Linked DNA regions of Homo sapiens: region 2 is linked to region 1. The links come from fine-mapping of genetic effects on gene expression. Tissue or cell type: blood mononuclear cells. Region 1 holds a variant in brackets; the other region holds the start of a gene. All regions are shown on one strand. Distances are between the middles of the regions.

The links. PIP is the estimated chance that this variant, and not a neighbour inherited with it, causes the effect. A credible set is the group of variants that fine-mapping cannot tell apart.
Region 2: it holds the start of CCNB1IP1, and the variant in region 1 is the best candidate, but not a certain one, in a credible set for the expression of CCNB1IP1 in blood mononuclear cells (TOPMed, PIP 0.71).

What each region holds. Positions count from the first base shown.
Region 1 is chr14:20,361,696-20,372,618 of GRCh38, reverse strand. TEP1 (telomerase associated protein 1) reads left to right here. Exons shown (of 55, transcript NM_007110.5): 50 at 987-1,130; 51 at 1,305-1,401; 52 at 2,840-2,945; 53 at 3,043-3,275; 54 at 3,717-3,821; 55 at 4,060-6,952. The coding sequence ends at 4,182. Among named protein-coding and RNA genes, the nearest start is that of PARP2, 24 kb to the right of the region's middle. The variant T/C (reference allele first, on the strand shown) is at 5,598.
Region 2 is chr14:20,327,935-20,338,857 of GRCh38, reverse strand. It overlaps CCNB1IP1 (cyclin B1 interacting protein 1), which reads left to right and starts at 5,579. Exons shown (of 7, transcript NM_021178.5): 1 at 5,579-5,604; 2 at 9,485-9,684. RefSeq lists an enhancer at 5,500-5,809.

The DNA of each region.
Region 1 (10,923 bases):
GAGTGGGACATTATTTTCTGCTTCTGTCCATGGCAATGTAAATGAATAATTCTCAGGTGCCTACTTGATGCCAAGCTCTGGGCCAGGCAGTATGAACCAGTTACAGATGAAATTCATCCTTTAATTAAGGAAGCTCACAGTAGAGGAATGTGCATATATTTAAACCAGCAGCACTATTCAGACTGACTAGTGCTATAATGAAGATACACACACACACACACACACACACACACACACATACACACACACACACACATATTCCTGGGGCTTCAAAATTTGAGAAATTGTGGGAAGGAGTTGGTATTTAAGGTTGGACACTTACAGAATGAGTAGGAGTTTTCTGGACCAGTAAGAGAAGGGAACAGTGTTTCAGGAAGAGGAAGGAACATGTACAGAAGATATGGAGATGTTGAGAGTATGTAGTATATTCTGGGTATAGCCAGCTCCTTGGATTCCTGGTGGGAGTAAGGGAAATGGAATTGAATAGATAAACTGGGGTCAGGCTGTAGAGGGCACAGTGCTAAGAATTTTGGGTGGAATAATTATCTGGATTTTATAAAGAGAACTGGTGGCAGTATGGAAGATGGATGGTAGTAGAGAGATACTAAAGGTAAGGAGACCACATTTACACCTGTAGCTATAGCCTAGGAAAGACGTAATGTGGGCCTGACCTGGGCTGTGGAGATGAGAAGGGGAGATACGGATTTAGGCATGTGTTGCATCCACAGGCCTTACTGGTGAGTTGGAGGTAGAGAGGGAAGGAAAAGCCAAGAATGTTAGAGATTCCTAGTTTGAGCAAGTAATGGGATGGCACCGATGAATACTAATGTTAAAAAACAAAAACCAGAAAGTGGAACAGGATTTTCAGGGAAGGTGATACATTTTGCTTTGTACTTCATTCCTGAGGAATTCATGTGGGATTGAGGAGCCTGAGAAAGGTTAACTAAAATAGGATCTTTCTCTGTCCATGTACTTTTTTGAGCTAGTCTTCACCTGAACCGAATTCTACAGGAGGACTTAGGGGTGCTGACAAGTCTGGATTGGGCTCCTGATGGTCACTTTCTCATCTTGGCCAAAGCAGATTTGAAGTTACTTTGCATGAAGCCAGGGGATGCTCCATCTGAAATCTGGTAAGATCCAAAATGCCATTTCCTCCTGAGCTGGGGAAAAAGGAAACCTGAGTTAGTGGTTATCCTGAGGTTGAGTCTAACTTAGAAGAAAACTCTGGAGTCTTAAAGAGAGGTGTTCTTCTCTTTACCTCTCTTTAAATCCTGAGCTCAACCTATTCCTTTCTCACAAACCAGGAGCAGCTATACAGAAAATCCTATGATATTGTCCACCCACAAGGAGTATGGCATATTTGTCCTGCAGCCCAAGGATCCTGGAGTTCTTTCTTTCTTGGTAAGTCCTATTTGAGTGTGTGCTAAAGCAAACATTCGTCTAGGACCAGTGTTTTTACACCTTGGGGCCCGTCATGGAGGATAGGGAAGGGAAAGGCAGTTGGCTGCAAATCCTCTTATCCTCCTTCAACTGGAGCAGTTCTAATTTAGGACATTGTGTATTGGGTTCCCATGTAAGATTTCACTGGTACAAGAAAGGACTCTACCGTTTTAGAAAGCCATAGGAAACCATAAACCTAGAAGTTTTCTCAATTGCATTTTTTCCCGTGTCTCTCTTGTCTTGCCCCTATGAATAATAGCATCTTGAGGGCAAGGACTCCATCTTGTTTTTGTCATCATACTTAGCAGTTACTTAATAGATGTTCAACACTTTTTGGATTGAGTGTGCCAAAGCTAGCTGTTCACTTCAAATGCAGTTTCCTGGGAGCCGCTTGTTATTGGGAAGGTTATTAAATCCTGACCTGCTACCCACTAAAGTTATCTACTAAAGCCTATGCTTGACCCAGTGATTCCACTCCTAAATATATACCTAAGAGAAAGGAGTACATACATTCTGCAAAGCCGGGTACAAGAATCTTCATAGCAGCTTTATTCATCATAGCTAAATATTAATAAATAGAAAGGGGATAAATAATTTGTGGTATATCTATACAATGGAATACTACATGGCAAAAAAATTAATGTGATACTGCATGCTGATGAATGGAATAATACAGACATACCTCGTAGACATTATTCTGGGCAAAGGAAGCCAGTTACAAAGGAGTACATACTATATGATTTCACCTAAATGAAGTTTCAAGAACAAGCAAGACTAATTTCAGTTGACAGACATTAGAATATTTTTAGCTTTTGTGGTGATGGTCTGGTATTGATGGGAAAGGGACATAAGGGCAATTTTCTGAGGTGATGGAAATGCTCTACATCTTGATCTGTCGGGTGACTGCATGGGTGGATGCACATGTAAAAATACATCGCCGATGTACATTTAAGATTTGTGCACTTACCCAGGTGTAGTGGCTCACGCCTGTAATCCCAGCACTTTGGGAGGCCAAGGCCAGTGGATCACCTGAGGCCAGGAGTTCGAGACCAGCCTGGCCCACATGGTGAAACCCCATCTTTACTAAAAATAAAAAAATCAGCTGGGTGTGGTGGCGCACGCCGGTGTTCCCAGCTACTTGGGAGGCTGAGGCAGGATAATCGCTTGAACCCAGGAGGCAGAGGTTGCAGTGAACCGAGATCACGCCACTGCACTCCAGCCTGGGCGACAGAGTGAGACTCCGTCTCAAAAAAAAAAAAATTTGCGCACTTGATTGTATCTAAGTTGTAGTTAAAAAAAAAAAAAATTCCTGACCAGCCCAGAGCAGAAAACTGTTGTTTTGTCTGGTACAAGTTGACTCATATGGGTAGGCTAAACAAAATTACCTATTCTTTCACAGAGGCAAAAGGAATCAGGAGAGTTTGAAGAGAGGCTGAACTTTGATATAAACTTAGAGAATCCTAGTAGGACCCTAATATCGATAACTCAAGCCAAACCTGAATCTGGTGAGTGGTAACAGGAGGACCTGAGGAGCCGGGAGATGGCCCAGGGTGGATGGCAGATCCCTGAGACTTGGCTCTAATTCTGTCCTTAAAATGGCAGAGTCCTCATTTTTGTGTGCCAGCTCTGATGGGATCCTATGGAACCTGGCCAAATGCAGCCCAGAAGGAGAATGGACCACAGGTAACATGTGGCAGAAAAAAGCAAACACTCCAGAAACCCAAACTCCAGGGACAGACCCATCTACCTGCAGGGAATCTGATGCCAGCATGGATAGTGATGCCAGCATGGATAGTGAGCCAACACCACATCTAAAGACACGGCAGCGTAGAAAGGTGAGTTTGAAGGAAGGGTCAGAAATACTAGGGGAGGGCTGGGAGCAGTGGCTCACACCTATAATCCCAGCACTTTGGGAGGCCTAGGCGGGCAGATAATGAGGTCAGGAGATCAAGACCATCCTGGCTAACACGGTGAAACCCCATCTCTACTAAAAAATACAAAAAATTAGCTGGGCGTGGTGGCGGGTGCCTGTAGTCCCAGCTACTCGGGAGTCTGAGGCAGGAGAATGGTGTGAACCCGGGAGGCAGAGCTTGCGGTGAGCCGAGATTGCGCCACTGCACTCCAGCCTGGGCGACAGAGCGAGACTCTTGTCTCAAAAAAAAAAAAAAGAAATACTAAGGGAGGAGGGCTGTAGGTCTGACACAGCACATTGTGATGCTTCTCTGAGGAGGGGCCCCTGAGAACTCACCATTCTGCTCTCCCCTTTCCTCTTTGAGATTCACTCGGGCTCTGTCACAGCCCTCCATGTGCTACCTGAGTTGCTGGTGACAGCTTCGAAGGACAGAGATGTTAAGCTATGGGAGAGACCCAGTATGCAGCTGGTAAGTGTGTGTGTGTGTGTGTGTGTGTGTGTGCGTGCGCCTGCACACCTATCCCAAAGGGATGTCACAAGACAGCAAACTTAGAGTAAGAAAGGGCAAAAGATCAAAATTCTGTTTTCTTCAATCACTTGCAATGTATGACTAACCTGTTTCTAAATAAAAGGCATTAATGTGAGAAAAAATAAGTTAGTAAGGAGGCTTGTAGCCCTGACCTCCCCTATTTTTGTTCCCATCGTAGCTGGGCCTGTTCCGATGCGAAGGGTCAGTGAGCTGCCTGGAACCTTGGCTGGGCGCTAACTCCACCCTGCAGCTTGCCGTGGGAGACGTGCAGGGCAATGTGTACTTTCTGAATTGGGAATGAAGATGTGCCACTCGGGAATAATGATACCCCTTGTGCTAGAGATGCAAAGCCTGAAGACACTGGTAGCTTTTAATAATTATAAAATTAATAATTTCTTGATAATTATAAAAATGAAGTGTCAAAAAATCTCAAGTGTAGGCCTGCCTGTGTTCTCATGTGGATTTAGAACAGGAGGATATTCTATGTGTATGTATATGTACATTCTAATGTGTGTCTCTTCTTATTCAACATTAATCCTTACTAGAACCACAAGAAAGTGAATGAAATCTTTAGTAGGTACTCTTTTGAAACTAGGTTTTAGAATTCTTGCATCACTCGCGGGCCCTAGGACCCTAGGATGCCATTCTTGCCAGGAGGAGGAATGAGAGTGATGTTGGCCAACATTCAATTTGAACAGAGCATGGAAGACCTTTCAGTTCATCGGGAAAGAATGAGGGAGGGAGAATAAGTCAGTCATGCATCAGGGCATTTAGAAAGAGCTATGTTTCTGTCACAGAGACAGCCCTTTTCTCAGAACTACCCAGAGGAGGCCGGGCATGGTGGCTCACGCTTGTAATCCCAGCACTTTGGGAGGCCGAGGTGGGCAGATCACGAGGTCAGGAGATCAAGACCATCCTGGCTAACATAGTGAAACCCTGTCTCTACTAAAAAATACAAAAAGTTAGCCAGGTGTGGCGGCGGGCACCTGTAGTCCCAGCTACTTGGGAGGCTGAGGCAGGAGAATGGCGTGAACCCAGGAGGCGGAGCTTGCAGTGAGCCGAGACACCACTGCACTCCAGCCTGGGCAACAGAGCGAGACTCTGTCTAAAAAAAAAAAAAAAGAACTACCCAGATGAGAGGTGAGGAGCCAAGCCATTGAAAGCGGAACAAACCTTCTGGTTTTCCCAACTTCTGACACGACTTTCAACTTTAGTCAATATGGTAATTGGCATTCTCAGAAGAGATCACGAAAGTGTCTTACTCTCTCTCAAATTGAAATTCACAAAGATTAAAACTAATTGAGAGGTGGCACAATCATAGCCATGAACTCTGATTTTCTTAAGTAAAAAACCTTTTTTTTTTTTTTTTGTTTTTGAGATAGAGTCTGGCTCTGTCACCTAGGCTGGAGTGCAATGGTGCAATCTCAGCTCAGTGCAACCTCTGCTTCCTGGGTTCAAGCGATTCTCCTGCCTTAGCCTCCCGAGTAGCTGGGATTACAGGTGCCCACCACCACGCCCAGCTAATTTTTGTATTTCAGTAGAGACGAAGTTTCACCATGTTGGCCAGGTGGGTCTCAAACTCCTGACCTCAGGTTATCTGCACACCTCAGCCTCTTAAAGTTCTGGGATTACAGGCGTGAGCCATTGTGCCCGGCCCATAAAAGAACTTTATTATATTTCTAAAATTCAATCATATGGAAGAATCTATTGAGCAGG[T/C]TAGCCTTTGCTTAACTTTCCTCCTCTGTTACTCCAGCCTTAGCTGGGGTGTTTTGTAGAATTTTCAGAGCATGGGAGACAGACAACTAGAGCTTCCTCCTGCCCTTGGCCCATGCTTTTAGGAGAGCAAAAGGCAAAAGATTGAAACCACTGACTTTAGTTTCCTCAGGCCCTTTCTTTCTGAGGGTTAAAGAAGAAGGAAATGTCTTCTGTGGCCAAGAATTCAAGGACTTGTAGGAGATAAGTGAAGGCTATTACAGGGATTTTGTCCTGGTTTGGTAGGTTTCTCTTGGAGAAATACCACTACACCCTGGTCTAGAAATGAGTTTTGAAGACTTGGGGAGTTAAAGGGCACTGAGTTTTACTCTCACTGTACCCTGATTCCAGGTTTTACATGGAGAAATAACCTGAGGGACTTTATTTCTATCCAATGCCCTGGTTTCCATCCTGACCAGAGGATGATGACATCCGCTGATAGGCCATGCTTCTGTCTTCTCTTATGTGCCTCATGCCAAGCCTCGAAATATACCTTCTGGACCATCATTTCCACATCTACCTTGTGACTAGAAGTCCTAGTTATGGTATTTTGAAATTTATGATCCATAATCCTTGCCAGAAATCCTGCAGCGAACTATGGCATGGCATCATCCTAGTCATTGATTTCAATCTTTTGCCTTTTGCTCCCCTAAAATCTTGGGCCAATTGCAGGAGGAAGCTCTATTTGTCTCTCTTCCATGCTCTGAAAATTATATAAAAGCATCCCAGCTAAGGCTGGAGTGAAGGGGTTGGGGAAAGTTAAGCAAAGGCTAACTTGACCAATAGGCTCAATAGATTCAGTCTTGTTGGCCAGGCCCACTTGAAGGGTTTTTTGTTTCATCTTGGAGAAGGACAGTGAGGTCATGGTATAATTGTTATGAGTAAAGTCAAGAACAGCTTCTAGGTAAAAGTAATTATGTACCCAAAAGGAGTTGAAGGGAAAATCAATTTAGGTTTACATTAAACATCCTTCAAGTTCTTATCTTTAAATGGAGTTTCAGTGTCTCCCAAAGGCTGGATGAGTTTTACAGTTATAACCACTGGATTGTGAGACCATAGGACATTTGAACAATCTTTTCTTCTACCCATCTAGAAAAGCATCTTTTTTATATACCAAATTTTTACACATATATCCACATCTGTTTTTGAAATCTAGAGCAGAGGTACTCAAAGTTTGGTTCATGGACTAGTGCCAGTTCACAAATTGTTAATGTTTTATAATGAGATAAGTACGGAAGTTGAGAGTAACCATTTAGAAACTGTGTAGGAATTTAAAAAGTAATATCTGACAAATTTAATAATAAAAATGGAGGCTTGTATTTTGTGTGCTTTTTAATTTCATTTTCTTAATAATCCATTTTGATTATATTTTATAAAAGTATTATTCCGTGACAGATAAGAAATTAAAACAGGCCAGGCACGGTGGCTCACGCCTATAATCCCAGCACTTTGAAAGGCCAAGGCGGGTGGATCACCTGGGGTCTGGAGTTCGAGGCGAGCCTGGCCAATATGGTGAAACCCCGTCTCTACTAAAAATACAAAAAATTAGCTGGGCATGGTGGCAGGCACCTGTAATCCCAGCTACTTGGGGGGCTGAGGCAGGAGAATCGCTTGAACTCAGGGGGCAGAGGTTGCAGTGAGCCGAGATCGCATCATTGCACTCCAGGCTGGGCAACAAGAATGAAACTTGGTCAAAAAAAAAAAAAAAAGAAAAAAAAGAAAGCAAGAAAGAGAGAGGGAGGGCGGGAGGGAGGCAGGAAGGAAGAAAGAAAGACAAAGGAACAATTAGTCCTTCATCTCAGAAGGTTTGAGAAGCACTACTCTAGAGAGACTGGGTAACAGCAGCAAAAAGCATGGACTTGGAATAAGACTGCCTGAGTTCAAATCTTCATGCCTCCTTTCCCCCATTTGTACAACAGCCATAATAATGGTGCTTACTTCATGGGAGTGTTTTAAGGACTAAATGAGTTAAGGTGTAAAACACAGAACAGTGACACTTTTGTGGTAAGTATTCAATAAGTGCTAACTTGACTGTTCTTTTTGTTACCTAGCAGTACGAGTATCACCTCATTATTCTTTCTCATAAATGTCTTATTTATTAGTATATATTTAATCAATCAGAAAATCTGGACCGAATTTTTTAGTTTTCAAAAAAATGTGAAACTCGTATTCTTTCTAAGTTCAGGGGTACAAGTGCAGGTCTGTTACATAGGTAAACTTGTGTCATGGAGGTTTGTTGTACAGTTTATTTCATCACCCGGGTATTAAGCCTAGTACCCATTAGTTGTTTTTCTTGATCTTCTCCCTCCTCCCACCCTCCAAATACCTAATCTTCTCATCCAGAACGATGGGTATGTTTCTTTATCAGTTAAAATATTAAAGTTATGCTATCATAACAACCCCAAAATCTCAACAACTTAAAATAGCAAAGATTTATTTCTAAATCATGCCACATGGCCCGTTAAGGGTCAGCGAGAAGGCCCTGCTCTACTTTGCGCATATTTTGAGCTCTGTGCTTCACGTGGCGAGTAACTCTTCAATCTTCCACTTGGAAATAAAACACATCACTTCCACTCATATTTAATAAATACAAGCAAAGCAAGTCACGTGGCCATACCTAATGTCAAGGGATGGGGAGGAAGTATCCTACGATGTGTCTGAAAGAAGAACCAGGAGCCAATACACAGATGACATCCCCAAAGAACATATCTGTGTTGGTGCTTTCCCACTAGAATGGCTCTTAATCCTTCTTTTTTAATAATGTAAGATTTAGGCTGGGCGCAGTGGCTCAAGCCTGTAATCCCAGCACTTTGGGAGGCTGAGGAGAGCAGATCACCTGAGGTCAGGGGTTCAAGACCAGTCTGGCCAGCATGGTGAAACCCTGTCTCTATTAAAAATATAAAAATTAGCTGGGCGTGGTGGCATGCACCTGTAATCCCAGCTACTCTGGGGGCTGAGGCAGTAGAATCGCTTGAACTCGGGAGGCGGAGGTTGCAGTGAGCTGAGATCACACCATTGCACTCCAGCCTCAGCAACAAGAGCAAAATTCCGTCTCTAAAAAATAAAAAAAAATGTAAGATTTACAGAAGAGTTGCAAAGATAGTACAAAGTGTTCCTCGATACCCTTCACCCAGCTTCTTCTAATGTTAACATCTTACATAACCATGCTACATTTATCAAAACTAGGAAATTAACATTTGTTAATTAAATTACCAGTAAGTTAATTTAAAAATGTTAATTAAATTACAGTCAGGATTTGGATTTGCCCAATTTTTCCGCTAACGACTTTGTTTTGTTCCAGAAGCCAATCCAGGATCCCACATTGCATTTAGTCATTGCGTTTTCTCAGTCTCCTCCAACTGTGACAGATTTTCAGTCTTTTCAAAATCTTGACACTTTTAAAAAATAAATTTATTTATTTATTTATTTATTCTTGAGACAGGGTCTCAGTCTGTTGCCCAAGCTGGAGCGTGGTGGTGCAATCACAGCTCACCGCAACCCATGTCTCTAGGGCTCAGTGATCCTCCTGCCCCAGCCTCCCGAGTATCACATCACTGCACTCCAGCCTAGGCAACAAGAGTGAAGAATGTCGTAGAATGTTCTTCAGTTTGGTTTTGTTTTCTGTTTTTTCATGAATAGGCTGAGATTATGGATTTAATGGATGAATTCAAGAGATGATGTGCCTTCATACTGCATCCTATTGGGTGCATATGATATTAACATAACTTATAACTGGTGGTGTTAACCTTGATCACTTTTAAAGTTAAAGTGATATTTGCCAGGTATTTTTGCCATACCTTCTGTTAGAAGCGGGTCACTAAGTCCAGCCCATACTCAAGGGGAAGGAAAGAAAACCTCTAGAAGAGAGAGGTATCAAAGAAATTTATACATCTGGAGGTAGGTTTTTTGAGGCTATGCAAATATCATTTTCCCGACTAATCTTAGCATTCATCCATGGATCTTGACTGCAGTATTATTAGTGCGGTTTTCTAATCATGATTTTCTATTCACCTCCATTTTCCCTGATACTTTCTATTTCCCTTTGACATTTAGTTATTGAAATTATTTCTGATTTCCTTTCTTTTTTTGAGACTGGATCTTGCTCTGTCACCCAGGCTGGAGTGCAGTGACATGATCAGAGCTCACTGTACTCTCAAACTCCTGGGTTCAAGTGATCCCCCTATATATATATATATATTTATATTACAAAAACTTGGTATATTTTTATTGTGATATAATTCATTTTCTTTTTGTTGTTGTTTGTTTGTTTGTCTGGTTTTTTTGAGACAGGGTCTTACTCTGTTGCCCAGGCTGGAGTACAGTGGTGTGATCTTGACTCACTGCAACCTCCGCCTCCTGGGTTCAAGCGATTCTCCTGCTTCAGCCTCCTGACTAGCTGGGATTACAGGCATGTGCCATCACGCCCGGCTAATTTTTGTATTTTTAGTAGAGACAGGGTTTCACCATGTTGGCCGGGCTGGTCTTGAACTCCTGGCCTCAAGTGATTCACCCGCCCTGGCCTCCCAAAATGCTGGGATTACAGGCGTAAGCCACCGTGCCTGGCCTGTAATTCATTTTCACCCTTATGAAGTGTACGGTTCTGTGGTTCTTAGTATATTCACAAATTATGCAACCATTACCGCTAATCCTGGAACATTTTAATCACCCCACCAAGAAACCTTGACTCCATTAGCAATCACTCCCCTCTCTCTTCCTCCAGCCACTGGCAACCACTAATCTACTTTCTGTATCTATGAATTTGCCTAGTCTGGACATTTCGGATAAATGGAATCATATAATATGTGACCTGTGTGGCTTCTTTCAATTAGAATAATGTTTTCAAGGTTCATCCATGCAGTATCAGTACTTCATTCCATTTTATGACGGAATAATATTGCATTGGATGGATATACTTTTTATGTTTTTACAGCTTTATTGAGTTATGATTGGCATGCAATAAACCACACATATTTAAAATACACAATTCGATAAAGCTTGACATATATATATATTAATAAAATTATTACCACGGTCAAGATAGTTAACATATCTAACAGGAATAAACCACATTTTGTTTATCCATTTATTGGTTGATGGATGTTTGGAGTGTTTCTACTTCTTGGCTATTATAAATATTGTTGCTATCAATATGCATGTACAAATTTTTGTGTGAACATTGCTTTTTTATTCTCTTGGTTATACACCTAGTAGTGGAATTGCTAGGTCCTGATAACTCTTATGTTCAACTATTTGAGGAACTGCCAAGCTTTTCCAAAGCAGCTGCACCACT
Region 2 (10,923 bases), 34 kb after region 1:
ATGATATTTGTTGAATGAGATACTAAATAAGACAGGGTGTCAAGGAGCAAGGGGTATGACTTGAAAAAGAGGGTGGGTTCTGAAGGAAAGGTGAGACTTTATTGAACTTCACTGTCTTGAGGATTTCTCTTTCCTACCTTATTCAAAGAGGTGGATCTTGAGAGTTGTTTAAAAAAGAAATTCAGAATCAAAAAGATCAGTAATTGAAGGAAACTAGTAAGATTTTAAAAGCTTTGAAATTCCACAAGTATGGTTTATTATATTGCCTGATGTTATAAATATGTTTCCAAACTTATTTATATTTATTTATATATTATATTGCCTGATGTTATAAACAAATTTCCAAATTTATTATTTGCCAATTTTCCAAAAGTGATCAGCAAAGCTGCGGATCAGGACCACCATTTAAAGGAATTTGCATACATGTCTTCAGGAATAGCTAGGAAAGGGATGTTGATGAGAACCTTCTACTTTGCTACAACTTTGGAAGGAAAGGATCCTCAAGAGATATTAATTTAAAATGGAGAGAGTTCTGAGACGTATTAAAAGGGGGAAAGTAGTAGCTCAGAGTTGGGGTAGGAGGTGTTGAACATGTAGAAGGCCCAATCTCTGGAGTCCTAGGTTCAACTTGGGGGATAGGCATTCAATGTGGTGTCCATTTAGCCTTTGAAGCCTGTCCTTTGCTGCCTTAGGGGGTTGGGGTCTCCTACTTTTCTCTTCTCCCCTCTAAATTGAAACCTACTCTTGGATCTCTACCCTTATTTTGTGGAGAGGTACTGTTTTATTTTTTAAACACGAACACATTCTTCTCGTAAAACATTGCAGATATTCAAAACCAAAAAGCTCCTCCCTTAATTCCCTCAATCCTTCTCCTTGGAGTAACTTGTTAGCAGTTTGGTGTGTCTCTTTCCAGACTATTTTCTTTTCATTTACTTGCAAAAATGTGCACATACAGAATTATTCTATTTTGCATTTTTTGTGGGGGGGGGGAGAAGTGTTACATAAATGTGAGCATATTACATGGTGTTATTCTTGGCTATTTTCACTTCATATGCATTGGAGATGTTTTCATGTCAGTACATGCAGATTTACTTCATTCTGTTTAACTACTGGGTAGTATCTCATAGAATGGTTGTATCATTTAAAAAATGTTGTGGGTACATAATAGGTGTATAAATTTATGGGGTATATGAGATATTTATTTATTTACTTATTTATTTGAGACTGAGTCTCGCTCTGTCACCCAGGCTGGAGTGCAATGGTGCGATCTCATCTCACTGCAACCTCCGCCTCCGTGGTTCAAGCGATTCTCCTGCCTCAGCCTCCTGAGTAGCTGGGATTACAGGCGCACACCACCATGCCCGGCTAATTTTTGTATATTTTAGTAGAGATAGGGTTTCACCATGTTGGTCATGCTGGTCTTGAACTCTTGACCTCGTGATCCACCCGCCTTGGCCTCCCAAAGTGCTGGGATTACAGGCGTGAGCCGCCGCACCCAGCACATGAGATGTTTTATGTGCAATGTGAAATAAACACATCCTGGAGAATGGGGTATCCATCCCCTGAAACCTTTATCCATGGACAGTCTTTCAGTTATTTTAAAATGTACAATTAAGTCATTATTGACTATAGTCACCCTATTGTGCTATCAAATAGTAGGTTTTATTCATTCTTTCTAACGATTTTTTTGTACCCATTAACCACCCCTGCCGCCAAGGAATAGTTGTATCATGATTTAATGATCTTTGAATAGACATGGGTGTTTCTAATTGTTTTGCTGTCATAACCAGTGCTACAAGGAACATCCTTCCTTGAACATGCCCATTTGAGCACAATAGTTCTCCAGGGTGGATAACCAAATGTAAACTTGCAAAGGAGATGCTTAATTTTTAATTACAGACAAATGGCCATTCTCAATTCTTCATTTTGAATAAATTATAAATGAAATTTTTAGAGTGCTGCCTTTTCCAAGAGTTTACTCACTTCAGCAGTGATAACATCCCTTTTTTCCTTTTTTTAAATTTATTTTTTATTTCAATAGGTTTTTGGGGAGCAGGTGGTGTTTGGTTACTGGTGATTTCTGAGATTTTAGTGCGCCCATCACCAGAGCAGTGTACACTGTACTCAGCATGTAGTCCTTATCCCTCAACCCCACCACCCTTTCAGTGATAACATCCTTAAACGATAGTCATTCAGTTGGTGTTCTCCAAAGGGTGAGCCTCAAATCTACCGGAAGTACCTGAGGGTGCTTATTAAAATACATATTCCTGAGTCCCACCCACTGAATTAGAATCTCTGAACGTGTGTCCCAGGAATCTACTTTTTTTTGAAACAGGGTCTCACTCTGTTGCCCAGGCTAGAGTGCAGTGGTGTAAACACAGCTCACTACAACCTCTACCTTCTGGGCTCATGCTCTCTTCCCGACTCAGCCTACCTTAGTAGCTGGGACTATAGAGGCATCACCACTCTTGGCAATTTTTTATTTTTATTGTTTGTAGAGACAGTTGTTTTACCATGCTGCCCAGGCTGCCCTCAAACTCTTGGGCTCAAGCGCTCCTTCTGCCTCCACCTACCAAGTATTGGGACTACAGATGTGACCTACCACACCTGGCCCCAGGAATCTATCGACTTTTAAACAATTTCAAAGTTATTTTACAGAGCACAAAATTTTGATGTTACCAGCTGAAGAGAATTTCATCATGGATTATTATAAGTATTAAAGCCTGGAATACAGAATATCATAAAGAAATGTTAGATATTTAATGGGAATTTGAAAAGAATATTGTACTTTCTAAGGTTTTCTGAAATCACACAATATAGGAAGCAGTGCAATGTGGTGGTTGAGTTTGGGCTGTCAAGTTGGATGGCTGCTGTCTCAGTTTGTTTTCTGTTGCTTATAACAGAATACCTGAAACTGGGTCACTTATTTATTAGTTTGTTTTTTAATTAATTTATTTTTTGGATACAAAGTCTTGCTCTGTCTCCCAGGCTGGAGTATAGCGGTACTCCAAACCTACACCTCATTAGTTCAAGCGATTCTCCTGCCTCGGCCTCCCAAGTAGCTGGGATTACAGGTGTGCACCACCATGCCTGGCTAATTTTTTGTATTTTTAGTAGAGATGGGGTTTCGACATGTTGGCCAGGCTGGTCTCGAACTCCTGGCTTCAAGAGATCCACCTGCTTCGGCCTCCCAAAGTGCTAGGATTACAGGTCTAAGCCATCACACCAAGCCTGGTTTATTTATTTATTTAGTTAGTTTTTGAGACAGGGCCTCACTCTGTCACTCAGGCTGGACTGCAGTGGCACAATCTTGGTTCACTGCAACCTCCGCCTCCCGGGTTCAAGTGATCGATCCTCCCACCTCAGCTTCCTGAGTAGCTGGGACTACAAGCCCATACCACCATGCTCAGCTAATTTTTGTATTTTTAGTAGAGACGAGGTTTTGCCATGTTGGCTAGGCTGTGGGGTAATTTATTTTAAAAAAGAAATTTATTTTTTGCAGTTATGGATGCTGTGAAGTCCAAGGTTAAGGACTGCCTCTGGGTTGCATCTGAACTCCTTCTTGCTGGAGGGGACTCGCTGTGATGTTCCAAGGCGTGGCAGGAAATCACATGGCCAGGATGCTGAGACTGCTAACATGCTATCCTTAAGTCTCTTTGCCTTTTCTTTAAAGCCACTAGTTCCCCTCCCATGATAACCTATTAATCCATGAATAGATTAATTTATTTATGAGGGCAGAACCCTCATGATCCAGTCACCTCTTGAAGGCCCCACTTCTAATGAGGATTAAGTTTCAGCCACTTTAGGGATTAAGTTTCAACATGAATTTTGTAAAAGGTGAAAGATTTATGCGATATGAAGAGAAACTAGAGTGACAACATGAATTTTGAAGGGGACAGTCAAACCATAGCAACTGGGATCTGAATCCTGACTTTACCACTTGCTAAATAGACAAATTCCTTAATCTCTATAACTCTGTTTCCTTTTTTTTTTTTTTTTTTTTGGTGAAATAGTTATAATGAAAGTGCTTACATTCTTGGGTTAATGTGAAGATTAAACAAGGTAATGAATATTACATTTCTTGAATATTTATAGTAAACATTCAAGAAATGTTTTGACTCTAGAAGTTACAATAAATCAATTATGAAATAACAAATTAGCATTTGATGCTAAATGTTGGGAAATTTGGGGCAGGTAAACTCTAAAGTGGATTGGAATAGGTAATTTCTAGTAAGGTGGAAGCAGGGTGGATAGGATGAAATGATTAAAAAATGAGAACTACTATGAGTTAGAGTTGTATCATTTCTCCATATAACTTGAATCTTTATACTTCAAACATTTGCACATTACATGTATATTTGTACATATAACACATACTTGTATATATATTCCCTATTACTATAATAGTATTTATTAAGAATAATGATGAATATTGTGCCGGGGAGTCCTCTAATTATGGCTTAAAAAGAAATCTTTCAGCTTGGGCAACATGGCGAAACCCCATCTCTACAAAAAAATACAAAAATTAGCTGGGTGTGATGGTGCACGCCTGTAGTCCCAGCTACTTACTGAGGCAGGAGATCGCTTGAACCTGGGAGGTCAAGGCTACAGTGAGTCGAGATTTCACCACTGCACTCCAGCCTGGGACACGAAGTGAGACCCTGTTTCAAAAAAAAAAAAAATTTAACAGAGTAAGAACCTATACTTTAACTGGAGGGCGATGTGAGGAGTCAAAATAATTGATTAATCAATTATGTCCTCAGCATTGAAAGTCATTGTTTTTGTCTGGAGATGTGTAAAACGTACACTTTGATCTCCAGTTGTTTATAGTCTACTTGGGAATATAAATCTAACAAGAAATATGTAATAACAATAATAACAGCTAACATTGTTGAGTACTGTGTACCGGGCATTGTACTGAGTACATTATATAAATTATTTTACTTAATCCTCATAACCATCAGAGTAGGAAGATTTCATCTTTTTTCCCTCTTTTTATAGTTGGAACTGAGGCTTAGATGTGTGCAAATAAGTGGCAAGGTTCAGATTCAAAATCAGCTAAATTTTATTTGAAGCCTAAAACACTTAACCCACCTACCTTTTATCTACTAAGCCTGTTAGTTCAAAGATTACCTGAAGGTAAATTTTATCAGGCCAGCTTTGGATCTGGGGGGAAAAAATGAAGGTAAATTTTAACTTGAATCGATCTAGACTGTTTATAATGGAATCTGTTGCCTAGCATAAGTTAAGCATGTTGAGGTCACAAAGGATAAGAAATTACCCTTAAGGGATGAAAATTCTTTAGAATAGAATGCAGTAGGCCCACGCAAACAACAACGTGTATAAATAGCTTAAATTAGCCTGTTTTTGCCTAAGTACATTAACTCAAAAGGAAACTCGGTTTAAGAAGTTCACTCCAAAAATAGTGCAAGAAGCATCACTGGTCCATAAAGAGGGGTGGAGTGGGTTACGTCATTTCAGCACCTTTTAAGGTAAAGGAGGAGGGAATCCTCTTGAACTCATTAGCCAATCAGGTTCTGAAGACACTTCCCAAGGCGACTTCCTGTCTCTCCACTTTCTTTCCCTCTCCGTTTTGGTGGGCTGGTGAGTGTGCGCTTAATTTTGCTCTCTAATTGTTTTGAATTTCTCTTCCATTTGAGTTATATACCCAGGTGGCAGGCCTTTATTTCAAGTCGGCATAGGAGTGTGTGTGAGTCGCAAGGAGATTAATTTCGGCTGTGTGGAGGTTGGGAGAAGGCAGTGAAATGCTCTTCCTGGCTTGTTTCCACGTGGGCCTCTGCAGTACTGGGTTTGCCTTCCGTCTCCGAGTCCTGGTGACCCAGGAACAATAGACTGTGCTTCATGTGCACAGTGCGTGTGTTCTTGGAAAACGCCGGCTTCATTTTGCTTGGCGGGAAAGATATTATCATCCTAATGCTGTTTTGATTTATATCTCCCTGGGTGAGGTCAGATTTCGGGAGAAGGCGTTCAGCTCAGTAGAGTTTAATTCTCCGGTGAGTGTCTAGAGGGCCCAGGTCCTTACTGGGTTTGTGGAAGCTGCAGCGTACCTTGTCTTTCTCCTGGCCTTCGCTCAGATCATTTCGGCTTTCTTGGTGAACCTGGGCAGCAAACTCTGAAGACAGATAAGCCTTAAAAGGAGCTCCTAATTTTTAATGTTGCCACTGTGGTGATTGTGTCCTTAAAAGCTATGGAAAAAGATTAGGGACCTTAGTTCAGGGCAAGCCTCTAGATTTAAATTCCAGCGCCACAGTTTACAGCTCTGGTGACCTTGGGAGAAGCAGTGAGCCATTCCGAGGCTTAGCTTTCCAAGATCAGATAAAATATATAAAAACTAGGCTCTAGTTGGTGTGTAATAAATGTTAGGTACCTTTAGAAGTAAGCAGTACTTATTTATTTACAGCAAGTATTTTGGATATCTGTTTTCTCATAAAAAGTTTGCTTAGTGACCTTCAATGTCATTTCACTGAATTCCTTTCTTTTGGTACATGTTAATTTTAATGTGATGTTTGTGTTGGATATTCTTATAGGCAGAAAGTGTGAGAAAGACAAATAATAAACCAGTTAATCGAATGTAGTAATAGGTATTTGTAGGCCTCCCATAATTTTTATAATTCTCAAGCATTGTTAAAATTTATTTTTTGGGGCATGGCGGCGCATGCCTGTAATCCCAGCTACTCGGGAGGCTGAGGCAGGAGAATCGCTTGAACCCGGGAGGTGGAGGTTGCGGTGAGCCGAGATCGCGCCATTGCACTCCAGCCTGGGCAACAAGAGCGAAACTCTGTCTCAAAAAAAAAAAAAAAAAAAAAAAAATATATATATATATATATATATGTATACACATCATATATATATATATTTTTGAATAGGTAATACATTCACATGGTTCAAAATTCAAAAGATATCAAAGTTTCTTATCCCCTTCCCTAAGCCATCCAATTCCTCTCCCTCATAACAGTGTTACTAAGATATTTTATGCATATAAGCAAATATGTGTAGGTATCCTTCCCTTTTACTATACCTACTCTACTATGTGTCTTACTTTTTCCACTTAAGTTCCATGAGTAGAGTGTTCACATTCTTCATAATGGTAACATAGTATTCTTTAAAAATTATTTTTTTTAAAAAATATATTTTTTCAGTAGGTTTTCAGGGTATAATGGTAACTCAGTATTCTAATTTATGTACCTACTATAATTTATTTAGCTTTTATCAGTAGGTATTCAGATAGTTTATGATCTTGATATTTCCCCCTCAAATGAATAACCTTGTAAATCAGTCAGTTGGCATAAAGGCATTTCAATTGGGTTTTGGTATATTCTTGTTTAAAAGGACTCTAGATATTTTGCAGTGCTTCCTATTTATATTTATTTTGTACACGGTGGTGATTAGAAACCAATCAATACTCTAAACTTGATTGAGCAATAAAGGATTTTCTACCGAAAGGAAAATCATCTTGATGGCTTTTATGTGAATATATCTTTGCCCACTTTGGTTTGAGTGGGGATGGTTTATCTTGTTATGAGCATGTGTTTAATGCTGGGAAGGAGTGACAGCAGTGGCCCAGAACAACCAAGTCATCTTTGTATTCACAGGGGCAGAAAGGGCATGCTTTCAGTGTTTACTTAGAAAATGTGTGCTGGATATGCCCCTGAACTCATGGTGTTGAGGGCATATTTTAGTATTAAGTTAGGAAAAGCTGAAATGTATTTTAGGATGTAAACATGCAAAATAAAAAAGGAAGCCTTTGGGAATTTCTCCAAAGCTGTTTTAGTCTTAAGAGGCTTAGTTCCGGTTTTTTAGGTGGAAGTTTTGTGAGTTGGGAAAACATTACATTCTTTCCAATGGAAGCATGCTTTTGTTAATAAGACTTCATAATACATTGGAGTCTTCATTGTTAAGTAGGAAATGAGGGGAAGGGGGAAGCAAACCTGTGTCTTTTTTGCTTGAAGGACAATATGGCCGGGCGCGGTGGCTCACGCCTGTAACCCCAACACTTTGGGAGGCCGAGGAGGGTGGATCACCTGAGGTCGGGAGTTCGAGACCAACCTGATCAACATGGAGAAACCCCGTCTCTACTAAAAATACAAAATTAGCCGGGCGTGTTGGTGCATGCCTGTAATCCCAGCTACTCGGGAGGCTGAGGCAGGAGAATCGCTTGAACCCGGGAGGTGGAGGTTGTGGTGAGCCGAGATCGCGCCATTGCACTCCAGTCTGGGCAACAAGAGTGAAAAAAAAAAAGGACACAATATCTTGGAGTTGGAAGGGCCCTTATGAGTACTATATGAGTGACCTTTCTGGCTTCTGGGTTATTGTGAGAAGTGTGACTTTTTGTTGTTAAATTTGTTTTTATTGTAGATTCACGGGGTACATGTGCAGGTTTGTTTCAGGGTATATTGCATGATGCTGAGGTTTGGGCTTCTATTGATCCTGCCATCTAGGTAGTAAACATTGTACCCAATAGGAAGTTTTTCAGCTCTTGCCCCTCTCTCTCTTTTCCTCCTTTTGGAGTACCTAGTGTCTATTGTTCCCAACTTTTTGTTCCTGTGAACCCAGTATTTAGCTCCCTACGCAAGATTTAGCTCCCAACGCAAGATTTAGCTCCCACTTATAAGTGAGAACATGCAATACTTGGTTTTCTGTTTTTGCATAAATTCGTTTAGGATAATGGCCCCCAGCAGCATCCAGCAGCTCCAGTTGCTGCAAAGGACATGTTTTTTGTTTTTTTTTTTTTTATGGCTGTGGAAAAGTGTGAAATTTTTAGGCAGAATATTTGCCTTTCTACTCACTAGCTGGTTGAGCTTGGGCAAGACATAGAAATAACATATTAAACATTTAACTCCATGCCAGCTACAGTGCAAAATGTATTTATTACCTCAGTCTTCACGGAAGTTTTAAGAGGTATGTAGTATTTGTCCTCATTTTACAGAGGGGACAGCTGAAGTTTAGAGAAGTTGCATAACTTACCCATGGGCACAGCAAATACATGAGAGAGCCAGGATTAAAATCTAGTTTAGTATGATTTCAAAATCTATTATTTTAGGGAATATTAATTAGTGCAGCTATGATGGAAAACAGTATGGAAATTTCTCAAAAAATTAAAAATAGAACTACCATATAATCCAGAAATCCCATTTCTGGGTATATTCAAAGGAAATAAAACTAGTATGTCAGAGATACCTATACTCCCATGTTCATTGCATCATTATTCACAAAAGCCAAGATACGGAATTGACCTAAGGGTCCATCAACGGATGAATGGATAAAGCAAATATTATACATATGTACAGTGGAATACTATTCTGCCTTAAAAAGGAAGGAAACTGATAGTGAGTGGGAAATAAAACTTGGAGTCTGTTCTGATAGCAGTACCTTATATAACTATCTCTAAAGGAAAACTATACCAAGCTATTAGTCTAGTATTTACTTCCTATGAACAAAATTTTGTGTGTTCATTTTGTTTCAGGTTGAAGATGAAATCCACTGAGGAGGGAAGTCCAGCACCCTGTGTGCCAGTCCAGAACTGGCCCATCTGTAGACCCCCTGAAAATCATATGGGCTTGGATTTGGATATTCTCAACAGAAAGGGTTAAAGGCTGATGGTACCTAAAGCCTGGTACTTGAATTTTGATCAAGATAAGCTGCCTTAAGTTCTCTTCATTACACGTATGTGTGTCTTTCCTATCTAAAAAGCCTAGCTTAGAGATTCGAGTTACCATTGTATCCTATAATGCTAGGTGGCACTGAGTAAATTGGAATAGAGTCAAAAGGAATGGTGATGAAATCTTAACACGAGTATCTGCTGATTTAGTATCAATTTGTAGTTTGTATTAGGCCTTCATGAAGCATCTGTTCACACATATAAAATGTACCTTTTGGCTATGAACACTAGTACTTTGAAGTGATTACTGCCCACAGTCAACAAAATGCTGGGATCATTGATTGTTTATGGAGCATTTGCACAATACTTAGTAAATACGAAATGTCCTTTGTATGGTGGAATGACACTTGTTGAAGCATGCATGACTAGAATCCTGCAGGGAAGCATCACACATTGGGAAAGGTATCACATATTTAACATCAGGATTTATGTGCCAGGCTTTGTGCTATGTGTCAAAACAAAAAGACCAGGCCTCTTGCAATCTGGGTTTTGTTTGTGAGTTGAGATTAATAGAGAAGTTGTTCCTTTCAACCTATAATTATTATCCTGTAAGAATACTTAGATCAAGTAGTTTTTTTTTTAATTTCCTTTTTAAAAAAATTTATTTTAGGTTTGGAGAGATCAAGGAGTTTTAAGGTAGACATTGTTAAAACTGGAGAAACCTTTCACACCATGTCTTGCTTCTTGTCTACATTCTCTTAGTTAACCTTGCATCCTGCTGATCTGAAAACATTTTACATAGTTAAAGCTAAGTATAGGGCAAGGAAGGAGTAAAATAACATTTTGATCATATCTGTCTGAGATATTTAAAATGCTTCAGTTTCTTTCCAACCTACTGAGCTAGCATGTCACTGCATTACATTTTAAAGCAAACCTTTAGCTCTGTGTATTTCCTGTAGGAAGTACCATGGTGAATTGAAGAGTATGGAGTTTTGATGGAATTGAATTTAAATCCTAGCTCTTACTAGTTAGGTGACCTTAGGAAATTTATGTAATTTTTCTGAGCCTCAATTTTCCTGTAAATAGGGGGTTGTAAAATTTAAATGATACAAATTCTATACAGCTTGACAGATAGGATTTCTAAAGAATGATAGCCACTGCTTTCTTTTCTGTCAGCTTATTTTAGACCCATTCTTAAAGGCACTGATGTCCAATGGAGCCTTCTGTTATGATGGAAATGCTCTATGTTTGTACTGCCAATTTAGCTATTGAGTAATGAAAATGTGACTAGGGTAATGGGAGAA